4 separate regions of the Homo sapiens genome follow, and all the other regions are linked to region 2. The links come from fine-mapping of genetic effects on gene expression. A gene starts in region 2. Each other region holds a variant in brackets. All regions are shown on one strand. Distances are from middle to middle.

Evidence for each region. PIP is the estimated chance that this variant, and not a neighbour inherited with it, causes the effect. A credible set is the group of variants that fine-mapping cannot tell apart.
Region 1: its variant is the best candidate, but not a certain one, in a credible set for the expression of CYP2U1 in whole blood (INTERVAL, PIP 0.56).
Region 3: its variant is the best candidate, but not a certain one, in a credible set for the expression of CYP2U1 in ovary (GTEx, PIP 0.79).
Region 4: its variant is the best candidate, but not a certain one, in a credible set for the expression of CYP2U1 in cerebellar hemisphere (GTEx, PIP 0.72).

The regions. Positions count from the first base shown.
Region 1 is chr4:107,958,650-107,962,746 of GRCh38, reverse strand. The region is part of intron 1 of LOC107986298 (a long non-coding RNA gene); the gene reads left to right. Among named protein-coding and RNA genes, the nearest start is that of CYP2U1-AS1, 29 kb to the right of the region's middle. The variant C/G (reference allele first, on the strand shown) is at 2,182.
Region 2 is chr4:107,929,805-107,933,886 of GRCh38, reverse strand. CYP2U1 (cytochrome P450 family 2 subfamily U member 1) reads right to left here and starts at 2,338. Exons shown (of 5, transcript NM_183075.3): 1 at 1,754-2,338. The coding sequence starts at 2,243. It overlaps CYP2U1-AS1 (CYP2U1 and SGMS2 antisense RNA 1), which reads left to right and starts at 1,768. Exons shown (of 7, transcript NR_125929.1): 1 at 1,768-1,916. The region is part of intron 1 of LOC107986298 (a long non-coding RNA gene); the gene reads left to right. LOC124900751 (a long non-coding RNA gene) reads left to right here and starts at 2,302. Exons shown (of 2, transcript XR_007058221.1): 1 at 2,302-2,914; 2 at 3,984-4,082. RefSeq lists enhancers at 1,601-1,670, 1,731-1,800, 2,461-2,968 and a silencer at 2,011-2,600.
Region 3 is chr4:107,964,747-107,968,843 of GRCh38, reverse strand. The region is part of intron 1 of LOC107986298 (a long non-coding RNA gene); the gene reads left to right. Among named protein-coding and RNA genes, the nearest start is that of HADH, 23 kb to the left of the region's middle. The variant C/T (reference allele first, on the strand shown) is at 1,861.
Region 4 is chr4:107,952,440-107,956,439 of GRCh38, reverse strand. CYP2U1 (cytochrome P450 family 2 subfamily U member 1) reads right to left here. Exons shown (of 5, transcript NM_183075.3): 5 at 2,979-4,000. All of the region lies in intron 1 of LOC107986298 (a long non-coding RNA gene), which reads left to right. Among named protein-coding and RNA genes, the nearest start is that of CYP2U1-AS1, 22 kb to the right of the region's middle. The variant G/T (reference allele first, on the strand shown) is at 1,820.

The DNA of each region.
Region 1 (4,097 bases), 29 kb before region 2:
TGTTGGTGTGCTGCACCTGTTAACTCATCATTTACATTAGGTGTATCTCCTAATGCTATCCCTCCCCCCTCCCCCTACCCCATGACAAGCCCCAGTGTGTGATGTTCCCCACCGTGTCCAAGTGTTCTCATTGTTCAATTCCCACCTATGAGTGAGAATATGCGGTGTTTGGTTTTCTGTCCTTGTGATAGTTTGTTCAGAATGATAGTTTCCAGCTTCATCCATGTCCCTGCAAAGGACATGAACTCATCCTTTTTTATGGCTGCATAGTATTCCATGTTGTATATGTGCCACATTTTCTTAATCCAGTCTATCATTGATGGACATTTGGGTTGGTTCCAAGTCTTTGCTATTGTGAATAGTGCTGCAATAAACATATGTGTTGATGTGTCTTTATAGCAGCATGATTTATAATCCTTTGGGTATATACCCAGTAATGGGATGGCTGGGTCAAATGATATTTCTAGTTCTAGATCCTTGAGGAATCGCCACACTGTCTTCCACAATGGTTGAACTAGTTTACAGTCCCACCAACAGTGTAAAAGTGTTCCTATTTCTCCACATCCTTTCCAGCACCTGTTGTTTCCTGACTTTTTAGTGATCGCCATTCTAACTGGTGTGAGATGGTATCTCACTGATTTGCATTTGGTTTTGATTTGCATTTGTCTGATGGCCAGTGATGATGAGCATTTTTTCATGTGTCTCATGGCTGCATAAATGTCTTCTTTTGAGAAGTGTCTGTTCATATCCTTCACCCACTTTTTGATGGGGTTGTTTGATTTTTTTCTTGTAAATTTGTTTAAGTTCTTTGTAGATTCTGGATATTAGCCCTTTGTCAGATGGGTAGATTGTAAAAATTTTCTCCCATTCTCTAGGTTGCCTGTTCACTCTGATGGTAGTTTCTTTTGCTGTGCAGAAGCTCTTTAGTTTAATTAGATCTCATTTGTCAATTTTGGCATTTGTTGCCATTGCTTTTGGTGTTTGAGTCATGAAGTCATTGCCCATGTCTATGTCCTGAATGGTATTGCCTAGGTTTTCTTCTAGGGTTTTTATGGTTTTAGGTCTAACATTTAAGTCTCTAATCCATCTTGCATTAATTTTTGTATAAGGTGTAAGGAAGGGATACAGTTTCAGCTTTCTACATATGGCTAGCCAGTTTTCCCAGCACCATTTATTAAATAAGGAATCCTTCCCCACTTCTTGTTTTTGTCAGGTTTGTCAAAGATCAGATGGTTGGAGATGTGTGGTATTATTTCTGAGGGCTCTGTTCTGTTCCATTGGTCTATATCTCTGTTTTGGTACCAATACCATGCTGTTTTGGTTACTGTAGCCTTGTAGTATAGTTTGAAGTCAGGTAGCATGATGCTTCCAGCTTTGTTCTTTTGGCTTAGGATTGTCTTGCCATTGTGGGCTGTTTTTTGGTTCCATATGAACTTTAAAGTAGTTTTTTCCAATTCTGTGAAGAAAGTCATTGGTAGCTGGATGGGGATGTCATTGAATCTATAAATTACCTTGGGCAGTATGGCCATTTTCACTATATTGATTCTTCCTATCCATGAGCATGGAACATTCTTCCATTTGTTTGTGTCGTCTTTTATTTCGTTGAGCAGTGGTTTGTAATTCTCCTTGAAGAGGTCCTTCACATCCCTTGTAAGTTGGATTCCTAGGTATTTTATTCTCTTTGAGGCAATTGTGAATGGGAGTTCACTCATGATTTGGCTCTCTGTTTGTCTGTTATTGGTGTATAAGAATGCTTGTGATTTTTGCACATTGATTTTGTATCCAGAGACTTTGCTAAAGGTGCTTATCAGCCTAAGGAGATTTTGGGCTGAGACTATGGGGTTTTCTAAATATACAATCATATAATCTGCAAACAGGGATGATTTGAGTTCCTCTTTTCCTAATTGAGTACCATTTATTTCTTTCTCCTGCCTGATTGCCCTGGCCAGAACTTCCAACACTATGTTGAATAGAAGTGGTGAGAGAGGGCATCCCTGTCTTGTGCCAAGAGAATGCTTCCAGTTTTTGCCCATTCAGTATGATATTGGCTGTGGGTTTGTCAGAAATAACTCTTATTATTTTGAGATGTGTCCCATCAATATCTAGTTTATTGAGAGTTTTTAGCATGAAGGGCTGTTGAATTTTGTTGAAGGCCTTTTCTGCATCTATTGAGACAATCAT[C/G]TGATTTTGGTCTTTGGTTCTGTTTATATGATGGATTACATTTCTTGATTTGTGTATATTGAAGCAGCCTTGCATCCCAGGGATGAAGCCAACTTGATCATGGTGGATAAGCTTTTTGATGTGCTGCTAGATTCGGTTTGCCAGTATTTTATTGAGGATTTTTGCCTCGATGTTCATCAGGGATATTGGTCTAAAATTCTCTTTTTTTGTTGTCTCTCTGCCAGGCTTTGGTATCAGTATGATGCTGGCCTCATAAAACGAGTTAGGGAGGATTCCCTCTTTTTCTATTGATTGGAATAGGTTCAGCAGGAATGGTAACAGCTCCTCTTTGTACCTCTGGTAGAATTTGGCTATGAATCCGCCTGGTCCTGGCCTTTTTTGATTGGTAGGCTATTAATTATTGCCTCAATTTCAGAACCTGTTATTGGTCTATTCAGGGATTCAACTTCTTCCTGGTTTAGTCTTGGGAGGGTGTATGTGTCCAGGAATTTATCCATTTCTTCTAGATTTTCTAGTTTATTTGTGTAGAGGTGTTTATAGTATTCTCTGATGGTAGTTTGTATTTCTGTGGAATCGGTGGTGATATCCCCTTTATCATTTTTTATTGCATCTATTTGATTCTTCTCTCTTTTCTTCTTTATTAGTCTTGCTAGCGTTCTATCTATTTTGTTGATCTTTTCAAAAAATCAGCTCCTGGATTCATCAATTTTTTGAAGGGATTTTTGTGCCTGTATCTCCTTCAGTTCTGGTCTGATCTGTTATTTCTTGCCTTCTGCTAGCTTTTGAATGTGTTTGCTCTTGCTTCGCTAGTTCTTTTAATTGTGATGTTAGGGTGTCAAGTTTAGATCTTTCCTGCTTTCTCTTGTGGGCATTTAGTGCTATAAATTTCCCTTTACACACTGCTTTAAATGTGTCCCAAAGATTCTGGTATGTTGTGTCTTTGTTCTCATTGGTTTCAAGGAACATCTTTATTTCTGCCTTCATTTTGTTATGTACCCAGTCGTCATTCAGGAGCAGGTTGTTCAGTTTCCATGTAGTTGAGCGGTTTTGAGTTAGTTTCTTAATCCTGAGTTCTAGTTTGATTGCACTGTGGTCTGAGAGACAGTTTGTTATAATTTCTGTTCTTTTACATTTGCTGAGGAGTGCTTTACTTCCAACTACGTGGTCAATTTTGGAATAAGTGCAATGTGGTACTGAGAAGAATGTATACTCTGTTGACTTGGGTTGGAGAGTTCTATAGATGTCTATTAGGTCCACTTGGTGCAGAGCTGAGTTCAATTCCTGGATATCCTTGTTAACTTCCTGTCTCGTTGATCTGTCTAATGTTGACAGTGGGGTGTTAAAGTCTCCCATTATTATTGTGTGGGAGTCTAAGTCTCTTTGTAGGTCTCTAAGGACTTGCTTTATGAAAATGGGTGCTCCTGCATTGGGTGCATATATATTTAGGATAGTTAGCTCTTCTTGTTGAATTGATCCCTTTACCATTACGTAATGGCCTTCTTTGTCTCTTTTGATCTTTGTTGGTTTAAAGTCTGTTTTATCAGAGACTAGGATTGGAATTGCTGCTTTTTTTTTTTTTCCATTTGCTTGGTAGATCTTCCTCCATCCCTTTATTTTGAGCCTATGTGTGTCTCCGCACGTGAGATGGGTCTCCTGAATACAGCACACTGATGGGTCTTGACTCTTTATCCAATTTGCCAGTCTGTGTCTTTTAATTGGGGCATTTAGCCCATTTACGTTAAAGGTTAATATTGTTATGTGTGAATTTGATCTTATCATTATGATGTTAGCTAGTTATTTTGCTCGTTAGTTGATGCAGTTTCTTCCTACCAGCGATGGTCTTTACAATTTGGCGTATTTTTGCAGTGGCTGGTACCTGTTATTCCTTTCCATGTTTAGTGCTTCCTTTAGGAGCA
Region 2 (4,082 bases):
CCAACCGCAGATCAAAAAAACACATCTGTACTGAATGTGTAGACTTTTTTTCTTGTCATTCCTTAAACAATACTGTATAACAACTATTTACAAAGCATTTACATTGTAGTAGGTATTATAAATAATCTAGAGATGATTTAAAGTATCCAAGAGGATATGCATAGGCTATATGCAAATACTACACCATTTTATATCAGGGACTTGAGCATCCTAGGGTTTTGTTATTCGCAGGAGGTCCTGGAAGGAATCCCCTACAGATAAGGAGGGATGATTGTACATATGATGGAATATTAGTCTTCAAAAGAAAATTTTCACATATGCCACAACATGGATGAACACTAAGACATTATCTAAGGATTTTAAATGAGTAGGGATAAAGATCATAATACTTTAAATGCCCCACTGAAAAACAAATGTCACAGTTCACACCTCATCCACTACATGCCTTCGTAATACTGCTTCTACCTAAAATTCTCTTCTGAGCTCATGGGTGCCTGGAGAAAACCTACCTGCTTTTCTTTTCTTTTTTAAAAATTGTGGTGAAATACATATAAAATTTACCATCTTAACCATTTTTAAGTGCACACCTTAATGGCATTAGGTACTGTCACACTGTTGTGCAACCATTGCTACCATCCATCCATAGAACTTTTTTCATCTTGCAAAACTGAGACTTTCTGTCCCTATGAATTTCACTACGCTAGGAGGCACCTCATATAAGTGGATCATACAATATTTGTCTTTTCCGTTTAAAATCCTGATGCAAAACTCTGGCTTTATCAGATTCTGAAAAGCCTAGATCTTTCTTTGCCATGTTATAGGGGCAGGAAATAGCATTCATTTAATAGATACTTGAACTCCTACTATGTTTCAGACAGCAATGACTCTGTCCTCCTAGATGTCAGAACAGTGGTGAAGACTGACATCCAGGCCCAAGGTCATAAAGTTATGTAGCGTCAGTTTTGAAAAGTGTAGTGAAGGAAAAGTGCTTGGGCAAGGGACCTGGTTCTAACAAGGGAGGCTACCCTACTTGCAGAGGCTGTGAGAAAAGGCTTCCCCAAGGAAAAGGCATTTAACACCTGACTGATGCGTAGGAGTGACTCAGAAAAGAAGTCAGAGACCTAAGCCAGCCAGTAAGACAAAGGGGGACGGTAGAGACAGGTTAGATTGGACATTTTATTGCAGCAGATAACACGTTTTCCAACCCCCAAAAATGTCCAATTTAGACTCCCATACGCAGGAATCAGAGGCTATGAACCAAAGCCGGAGATTTGGTAATAGGCTTCTTCTGTGTTTTCTGGACTTTTTATCTTATTGGAAATTATCTTCTTAAATTCTTACATTCGAAACCCACAAGGTAAAAAGAATATCCTTCCCTCTTTCTAACATGGGGGCCAAAGTTTCTCTCCGAGGTCACAGCTGGTGGAAGGGAAGGCTACTTTTGGAAAGATGGAACCTGGCTTGCCACCTTGTCCTTCCGCCATCCCTATTACTCTCCCTCAATCTCCGGATGACTTTTCTACTTATGATCTTGGAGTATGAGCAAGTCACGCGTCCGTCACTACTTGATGGGATCTTAAAGGCATCAGAAAGGAGAAGCGCCGCCACCACCATCACCTGTTAGTTCAGGATGCAGGTGTGAGGCAGCCTGGGGGCGCGGGCGGCCGGAAGGGGCACAGGAACTGCAGCCCCCACGCACCTGGAGACTCATCCGCGGCATCCGCGTACCCACAGCCCACGACCTCCCGCTCACCCTTCTCCTTGGTCACGATGGAGATGAGCGGCACCCGCGGGCGGTCGCTGAAGACCTCGGCCTGCTGCACCAGCGCCTCGCGCACGCTGTGGAAGTCGCTGAGGACCACCACCAGGTAGTGGCCGATAAAGAAGCTGAAGATGCTGCCGTACACGCGGGCTAGGTGAGCCAGGAGCACCTGCGGGCCTATGACCGAGGGATCAATCCCTGCGGCCCTGGTCCTGCTGCTCAGCCAGCTCCGCCGCCGGAGGAAGGGAGGCAGCAGCACGTGACCGAAGTTGCCCACCAGAGGCCAGGGCGTGGGCCCGGGCGGGATGCCCCGCGCCCGGCGCCTCCGCAGCCAGCTCCAGCCCAGCAGCGCTACGAGGCCGCATAGCAGCAGCGCGCCCCCGCTGGGGTCCAGCCGCAGCAGCCCCAGAGGCGCACGCAGGAGGCGCGCGGGCCAGGGCGGGTCCTCGGCCGGCGGCTGCGACGGCCCCGGAGACGACATGGTCCGGGCGCCGGCGGCCTCGGGTTCCCCTTGCTGCCTGGAGGAGACGCGCACGCAGCTGCCTGACCCGCGGCGCCAGTGTCCTGCTCTGCTCTGGAAGGTCGGGGGCGGGCAGGGGGTGTAGGAACGCCCCCGGATTGGCTGCGCCGCGCGCATTCTCCCCGCCGCCGCCACTCAGCGACGCCTGGGCGGAACCTGGAGGCGCGCCGGCTGCCTGGCGGAGGGGGTTGGCGGGCTAGCAGGCGGGGGACCTGAAGTTTGCCCCGAAGTCCGGTTACGACCCTTTGCAGGGTCGGGCTTGGCGGTGACTGTCCCTGAAACTGGGATGCTGGCAACACAACCTTGCGCTCTGATTGGCTGTTGGTTTCCCTTGTGTCATTCGTTTGTCATTATCACTCGTTTGTCAGTTGACAAACACAAACGCATGGTTATGAAGTGCATAAACCGTGTTAGGATCTGTACTGAGTGTGGGAAACTGGTGAACAGGCCCGTGAGATGGGTCGGCCTTAGCACCTGTGCCCTGAGCTGGGAGAATGGGGTCAACGCCCTATTCCTGCATGCTTCGGTGTAGTAGTGAAAAGACGGGGTTCCTTATCTAAACTGGGATTCGCAGCACCCTTTCCTCCACGCAGAGACAGCAGGATGCTGGGAAGCCGTGGAATGCAGAATCTGTGGGTGTCGGCTTGGCAGCCAACTCTGCGGAAGGGATGATGGCGGGAGTGGGGGGAGCGAGGGGCGGGCAGCGAGGCACGAGGAGTCACGTTCTGAGAGCTTGCCCTGGGCTAGAAAACTTATGCGGAGAGCGAAAGCTGTGTCCATTCCTGCGTGTGGCCTGGGTGCATTAGAAAATGTACTTAAATCCAGAAATAGCGAAACCAGAATTTGCTTGGTGGATTTAAGTAGCTAGAAATATGAAAAGAAGATAACCGGTTGAGGGAGGGGTGGCAATATTATTATTGGTGTTAGACAACACTTGAAAGGCTGAGGTTGAAATATTAGATATGAATTGTATAATACTTTAAAAACAAAGTATTACTTTATTTTATCTTCTCAGATAATGGCTTTCCTGATAAGGGCTTCCCTTTCAGTCTTGTTTAGGCCAAATCCTGTAGTTTCTGTTCAAGTTGGATTGAGCATAGAATTGTCTGTACTGGGCCATTTTTCTAGCCGTTTCATTTTTCTCCATACATTAAAAGTTTGAACACCACGCTGTACCTATAAAAATGTGATCAAAGAAAGCATAGTGAGTCCTCAAATAAATACATGATCCATTTTATTTTTCTATAAACAAGTGATGCCAGTAGGATATGTTAAATTTCAAGTCCACTCTGTTCTCATATTCTTTTTGACATGCTTTTCATGTTATTTTAAGCTTATGCACCCCAAACAAAAAAAAAAAACCTCCACACCTCTCATCTTCTATAATTAACCACTACTTGTGAGATTACTTTTCTCATTTTTTTTGAATTTTTGAATTAAGAGAAGTTTTTAAAAATTTAAACTACTTGTTTGCAGATACGATCTTCAACATGACATTCTGGATGTCATCTGATTCTAGGGCTTTGCTCTCTGAAACAGTAGCCACTATATACATCATCCCATACAAGCAATTTAAATTCATAAATGATTTTAAAATAGTTGAAGCTGTGACTAATTTAACAACTCCAACAGCCACCCTTTTATATTGTACAGGATGTAACTGCACGTGTAGTGTTTTCCTAAATCTCTCATTTTCACTAGGTTAATAGCTGTGCGGGGCAGATAGGAAATCTGGGCTGAATTCAGCCTCTCCTCACCACTATATGTTGAAGTCCTAACCCCCAGTGCCTCAGAATAAGA
Region 3 (4,097 bases), 35 kb before region 2:
TTCCTAAAAATTTTTGGCCAGGCATGGTGGCTGATGCCTGTAATCCCAGCACTTTGGAGGCTGAGGCAGGTGGATCACTTGAGGCCAGGAGTTCGAGACCAGTCTGGCCAACAGGGTGAAACCTTGTCTCTACTAAAAATATAAAAATTAGCTGGGGGTGGTGGCACGTGCCTGTAATCCCAGTTACTCGGGAGGCTGAGGCACAAGAATTGCTTGAACCTAGGAGGTGGAGGTTGCAGTGAATCGAGTTTGAGCCACTGCACTCCAGCCTGGGTGACAGAGAGAGACTGTCTCAAAAAAAAAATTATATCTCAAAAATTAACTCAAGATGGATTAAAGACTTAAATGTAAAACCCAAAACTATAAAAACTCTAGAAGATAACCTAGGCAATACCATTCAGGACATAGGCACTGGCAAAGATTTCATGATAAACATACCAAAAGCAATTGCAACAAAAGCAAAAATTGACAAATGGGATCTAATTAAACTAAAGAGGTTCTATACAGCAAAAGAGACTATCAACAGAGTAAACAGACAACCCACAGAATGGGAGAAAAATTTTGCAAACTACATTCAACAAAGGTCTGATATCAAAAGTCTATAAGGAACTTAAACAAATTTACAAGAAAAAACAAACAATCTCATTAAAAAGTGGGCAAAGGATATGAACAGACACTTCTCAAAAGAAGACATACATGTGGCCAACAATTATATAAAAAAGCTCAGTATCGCTAATCATTAGAGAAATGCAAATCAAAACCACAGTGAGAAACCATTTCACACCAGTAAGATTGGCTGTTAAGAAAATAAAAAAATAACAGATGCTAGTGAGGTTGTGGAGAAAAAGGAATGCTTATACATTGTTGATGGGAGTGTAAATTAGTTCAACCATTGTGGAAGACAGTGTGGTGATTCCTCAGAGACCTAAAGACAGAACTACTTTTTGAGCCAGCAATCTATTACTGGATATATACCCAAAGGAATATAAATCATTATATTATAAAGACACATGCACACATGTTCATTGCAGCACTATTCACAATAGCAAAAACATGGAGTCAATCTAAATGCCCATCAATGATAGACTGGGTAAAGAAAATGTGGTACATATACAACATGGAATACTATGCAGCCATAAAAAAGAATGAGATCATATCCTTCACAGGGATGTGGATGGAGCTGGAGGCCATTATCCTTAGCAAACTAATGCAGGAACAGAAAACCAAATACCTCATGCTCTCACTTATAAGTGGGAGCTAAATGATAAGAACACATGGACACATAGAGGGGAACAACACACACTGGGGCCTATCTCAAGGTGGAGGGTGGGAGGAGGGAGAGGATCAGGAAAAATCACTAATGGGTACTAGGTTTAATACCTGGGTGATGAAATAATCTGTACAATAAACCCCCATAGAAGTGACTATGTTGTCTGGGGTATATACCCTGGGGTTCATGGTCGTGCACCAGGAAAATGTTAAGACATGGACAAACAAGAGGAGTTTAGGAGTGGAGGTTTAATAGGCAGAAGAGAAGAGAAAGAGAAACAGCTTTCTCTATAGAGAGAGTGGGGTCCCTGAATGGAAAAGACCTGCAGGTGGCATTGAATTTTATAGTCAGGTTTGAGGAGGCAGTGTCTGATTTACAAAGGGTTCACAGATAGGTTCGATCAGGTATGACATTTACATAGCAGATGGGGAAAGGCCGGTTGTCTCACCCTAATCTTATTATGCAAATGGGCTTTCCAGTTGATCTGAGCCATCTTGTCTGCTTCTTACTGTACACATGGCTGGCAGAGAAGGGAAGATGAAGCTGCCATCTTAAACATGTCTAGCCCCTAGTTCCTGCCAGCATTCACC[C/T]ATGCAAGCTCCCAGCTTCCTCGTCTATGTCTGCCGCTTGACTTTACAGGCTGCTCTTTGTTAGACAATGATTTGGGGCTGCTTTTCATTAAAGAGAAAAGCCTTACCGAGGACTTCTGTACCCTCACTATCTGCCTAAGTGATTTCTTCTTAACTCCTGTATCACCATGACACAGTTATCCTATGTAACAAACCTGCACATGTACCCCTGAACTTAAAAGTTTAACACAATAATTTGTATCTTTTGCCTGTTTTTAAAATTAGGGTATTCTACTACTGAATTATAGCACTTACAGTTCACTAGAAGAAATACTATGCTATAGTATATGAAAATATTAAAGATACTATATATTATAGTATATATGGATTTATAAGCACTGACTTATAAGCACTTTATATATTAAGGATATTGAATTTTTGGCAAGGCTGATACAAACATTTTTTCATGATTTGCCAGCCGTTTTTTGGAATACAAGAGTTTTCTATTTTTATGTCATTAAGTGTATGCTGTTTTAGTTTTCTGATTGATTCTATTATTTTTTTAAGAGTTGGATTTTTTCTTTTTTTCTTTAAACAGCCTTATTGAAGAACATTGATGGATAAAAATTGTACATATTTAAGGTATACAACTTGATGTTTTGATGTATGTATACATTGTGAAATGGTCTTCACAATCAAACCAATTAACATATCTATCACCTCACCAAGTTACCATTTTCTTTTTCTTCTTTTATTATTATCTTTTTTTGTGGCAAAAACATTTAAGATCTACTTCTTAGAAAATTTCAAGTAAGGAATATTGTTAATCATAGCCACCAGGCTGTACATTAGATCTGTAGAACGTATTCATCCTGCATATTGAAACTTTTTATCCTTTGACCAGCATTACCGTTTCTCCCTCCCTACTGCCCCTGGCAACCACCATTCGCTTTATAATTCTATGAGTGCGACTATTTTAGGTTTCACACATCAATGGGATCAAGCAGTATTTGTTTTTCTGTGTCTGCCTTATTTCATTTAGCATAATATCCTCCAGGTTCATCCATGTTGTTGCAAATGGCAAAATTTCATTCTTTCCTGAGGCTGAATAATATTCCATTGTGTGTGTGTGTGTGTGTGTGTGTGTGTGTGTGTACACCACATTTTCTTTTATCCATTCATCCATCAGTGGATACTTACACTCTTTTCATATCTTAGCTGTTGTGAATAATGCTGCAGTGAACATGGGAGTGCAGATAAATCTTCAAGATCTTAATCTTGATTTCCATTTCTGTGGGTATATCCCAAAAGAGGGATTGCTAGATAATATGGTCGTTCTATTTTTTATTTTTTGAGGACCCTGTATACTGTTTTTGATAAAGGCTGTCCCAATATAAATTCTCATGAACACTGTACAAGGGTTCCCTTTTTCCTGCATCTTTGTCAACACTTTTAATCTCTTGTCTTTTTGATTAATAGCCATCCTGATAGTTATGAGGTGATGTTTCATTGGGTTTTCATCTGCATTTCCCTGATGATTAGTGATGTTGAGCACCATTACATATACCTGTTGGCCATTTGTATATCTTCTTTCTAGAAATGCCTATTTAGGTCCTTTGCCCATTTTATAATTGGATTATTTGCTTTTGCTATTGACTCGTGTGAGTTCCTTATATATTTTGGATATTAACTCCTTGTAAGATATATGGTTTACAAATATTTTCTCCCATTCCATAGGTTGTTATTTAACTCTGTGATTTTTTTTTCTTTGCTGGGCAGCAGTTTTTTAATTTGATGTGATTCTACTTGTCTATTTTTGCTTTTGTTGCCTGTACTCTTGCTATCTTATTCAAACATATTATTGCCAAGACAAATGTCAGAAAGCTTTTTCCCTATGCTTTCTTCTAGTAGTTTTACGGTTCTGAGTCTTATGTTTAAGTTTTTAATCCATTTTGAGTTTATTTTTGTTTATGGTGTCAGATGAGGGTCTAATTTCATTCTTTTGCCTGTGAATATCCAGTTTTCCCAACATTAGTTATTGAAGAGACTATCCTTTCACCATTGTGTGCTCTTGGCACTCTAGTGAAGATTGACTGTGAATGCATGGATTTATTTATGGGCTCTCTATTCTGTTCCGTTAATCTATATGTCTGTTTTTATGTCAGTACCATCGCACTTAGGTTACTGTAGCTTTGAAATATCTTTTGAAATCAGGAAGTGTGATGTCGCCAGCTTTATTATTCTTTCTCAAGATTGCT
Region 4 (4,000 bases), 23 kb before region 2:
TTTAGTATGTTGTGTTTAGGTTTTTATTTGTCCAAAGATATTTCTTGAATTTCCCTTTGATTTCTTCTTTGACCCAATCTTTATTAGAGTGTATTGTTTTGTTTTCCCATATTTGTGAATTTTTTCATTTTCTTACCGTTTTTGATTTCTAGTTTCATTCCATTGTGGTTAGAAAAGATGTTTGGTATGATTTCCATTTTTTTTACATTTGTTAAGACTTGTTTTGTTACTCAATGTATGATCTATCCTGGAGAATGTTTTGTGTACACATGAGAAGAATGTATATTCTTCTGTTGGATGGAAAGTTCTATAGTTGTCTGTTAGGTCCATCTGGTCCATAGTGTTGTTCAAGTCACCTGTTTTTATTTTAATTGATTTTCTGTGCAGATGTTGTATCCATTATTGAAAGCAGGGTGTTGAAGTCTCCTACTGTTATTGTATTACTGTCCATTTCTCTCTTTAGATAGATCAATATTTGCTTTTATATATCTAGGTACACTGATGTTGGATGTGTATATATTTATAATTGTATCTTCTTGTTCAGTTGGCCCTTTCATCATTATATAATGGTCTTTTTTGTCTCTAGTTACAGTTTTTTACTTAAAGTCTATTTCATCTGGCATGAGTATAGCCATCCTTGCTCTCTTTTAATTAACATATGCATGGAATATCTTTTTCCATTGCTTCACTTTCAGCCTATGTGTGTCCTTAAATCTGAAGTGAGTCTCTTGTAGACAACATACAGTTGAATCTTCTTTTTAAATCCATTCAGTTACTCTATGTCTTTTGACTGGGGAGGTTAAGTCTATGTACAGTTAAAGTAATTATCAATAGGTAAAGGCTTACTATTGCCAGTCTGATAACTGTTTCTGGTTATTTTGTTGCTCTGTATTCATTTCTCCCTCTCTTTCTGTCTTCCCTTGTGATTTGATTATGTTTTGGGCTTGCATAAAGCATCTTATAGTTACAACTGTCTATTTCAAGCTGATACTAACTTCAATCTCATACAAAAACGCCATTCTCCCCAACCTTTGTGTCCTTGAATTCAGTGTTTAATTATCTTTATAGTGTGTATCCATTAACAATTGTGTGTGTGTGTGTGTGTGTGTGTGTGTTTTAGACAAAGTCTTGCTCTGTCACCAGGCTGGAGTGCAGTGGCGTGATCTCAGCTCACTGCAACCTCCAACTCCCTTGGTTTAAGCGATTCTCCTGCCTCAGCCTCCCAAGTAGCTGGGATTACAGGCATGTGCCACCATGCCCAGCTAATTTTGGTATTTTTAGTAGAGATGGGGTTTCACCATGTTGGCCAGGATGGTCTTAATTTCCTGACCTCATGATCTGCCTGCCTCAGCCTCCCAAAGTGCTGGTATTACAGGTGTGAGCCACTGGGCCCAGCCATCTTTTAACTTTTATATTAGGGTAAAAAGTAATTTATGTACTATTATAGTGTTACATTATTCTATATTTCCCTGTATATTTTCTTTTACCAGTGAGATTTATGTTTTCATGTTGCTATTTAACATGTTTTCATTTTAATTTGAAGAATTTCCTTAAGTATTTCTTATAAGACAGGTCTAGTGGTAACAAACAGATTCCCTCAGTTTCATTTGTCTTGGGATGACTTTATCCTTTATTTTTAAAGGCTATTTTTGCCCAATGCAATATTCTTGTTTGGCAGTTTTTTTCTTTTAGAATTTTGAATACATCATCCTACTCTATCCTTGGCTGCAGGGATTTTGCTGAGCAATCCACTGAGAGTCTTATGGATAATTAGCCTTTTCCCTTAACAAAAACTGATTATTTGACCCTCATACAAAGG[G/T]AAGAACTGATAAGAATATGAAATATCTTAGCCAGGCATGGTGGCACACACCTGTAGTCCTAGGTACTTAGGAGGCTGAGGTGGGAGGATCACTTCAGCCTGCAGTGAGCCGTGATCATGCCACTGCACCCTAGCCTGGGCAACAGAGTGAGACCCTGTCTCAAAAAAAATAAATAAAATAATATAAAAGTATATCATTTCAATGATGATAATACCAAATTATTTACTAATGAACAAATACCCTACTTAAATGAATTTGGTTTCTAAAAACAGTGCAGCAAAACCGAAGTAGATTTGAGGGTGCCACATTATTTGGTGTTCCCCTTGTTTCACTACTGTTATTTCACCAGAACTCATACTCTGGTGGCACAAGCCACAGTCACTGAGGCAGCAGACAGAAAACAATGACAGGTTTGCCTGTATCATCACCTCTGTAGCCTAAAGGGTCAAATAATCACCTTCCATCAAACTCACTTAATTCTTCATTTGCCCAACATATTTACTGATGCCTGCTCTGCATAAGGCATCCACTCTTGGTAAGTTATCAGATATAGTCAGTCCCTGACATCCTCATGGAGTGGAGATGAGAGAGAGGATAGAAACAGAAGGTTTAAATAAACAAGGTAGTTGCAGTTAGTGATGAGGGCTCTGGAGGAAATTGGGTGATGAGATTAGGGAGTTCTCAGGAAAGGCCACTTTGGATGTCATGGTGGGTGACCTCTCTGAGGAGATGCTGTCTGAGCTGTGACTTCAGGAAGAAGAGTAGGCTGTGGAAAAAGCTGGCAGGGGGTCCCTCCACAGGCAAAATATGGTTCAAGTATGAAAAAGCTCTTTTTCCTGAGCTGGGAAGTGTGAGACCAGCACTCAATACTTGGCCACAGCAGGCTCATGTGGGCCCATCTCCTCTCAACTCAACTCATGCTGGGCTTCTACAGGGAATATAAGACACCTGGGTGGTGATGCAGTCCTCTAAGGAACTTCACTCCATGGGGAAAGTTTTAAAGAATTACCCTTGTTTCTAAGGACCATGCTTACATTCTATTGTGGACATCTGTCTTTGGAGGCCTATTTTCTTTTCTTTTTACATTAACTTGACATCTGGTAAAACAAAATTTTGCATAGCAATTAAATCAAAACAAAAAACAGACATGACACTTTCTCAGTTAAAATAGTTTAATAAAAGCAACAAAACTGTGCTAACGATGAGAATCAAAAATGAGATATTAGGTAGACTTATAAAACAAAGTATAGTTATTTTTTGATTTCAAATAAACCATGTGCAAAATTGTAAAATGCCAATGTGTCTGAGAAAAGCATTAACAGTCCTTTTAGCAATTTATATATAAAGATGTTTTTAAAGTGCCACAGCTTAAGGCATTATATTTTAAAGTTTAATAAACATCTAATTTCAACATCTCTCCAAGAACAGACTTCTTCTCAATAAGCTATAAACTATTTGGTTAGGAATATTGAAAATGCATGTATAATTTAAGGAGTAATATACTTGTTAATGCTGAGTTATTAGTGCAATTCAAAAGCATATGAATTCCATATCAAGAACAAACTCTCCCGCCCAAGGTACAGTGTAATCCACACTGTATCATCTCATCTAAAAATCTATACAGCAGCTACCCCATCCACTCAGTTCCTCTGCAGTTAGGCTATTAGCTTTTCTTTTTCAAAAAGCAAAAATTCCTAAGACACCTAAAGATTAGCCTGTATTTCATTTATCTATACGGAAAGTGCTTAGTAATATTTCTAAAAAGGAAAAGAGCAGTATGGTAGATAAAGAATGTAGAGTCAAAAATCAATCATTTTAAAATTTTTCTTCTTCCTATGATTATGTTTTGGTTAAGCAGATATTATTTTCATTTTTTGAGCTTGCAAAAGTCTGCCTAGGAATGTGCTAAATCAAAGGAAAAATCTAGCCTCATGTTCACAATTGCCCTGGAATGCCATTCCCAGACTGAGATCTAACTACACAGAGTATGGCTAACGGCAGAAGTCAGAGGTTAGGGAGATCTGGTGTCTCCATTTATCTGGAAAACAGAGCAAAGAAGGGTGATCAGTTATAGAAGGCCAAACAGAAGTGTTTTAAGTTCAGAATTTCATCTTTCGTTTAATTTTCAAAGTAACAGCCACTCTGGATCTTTTCTTGCCCTCTTCTCTATCAGTATGAAC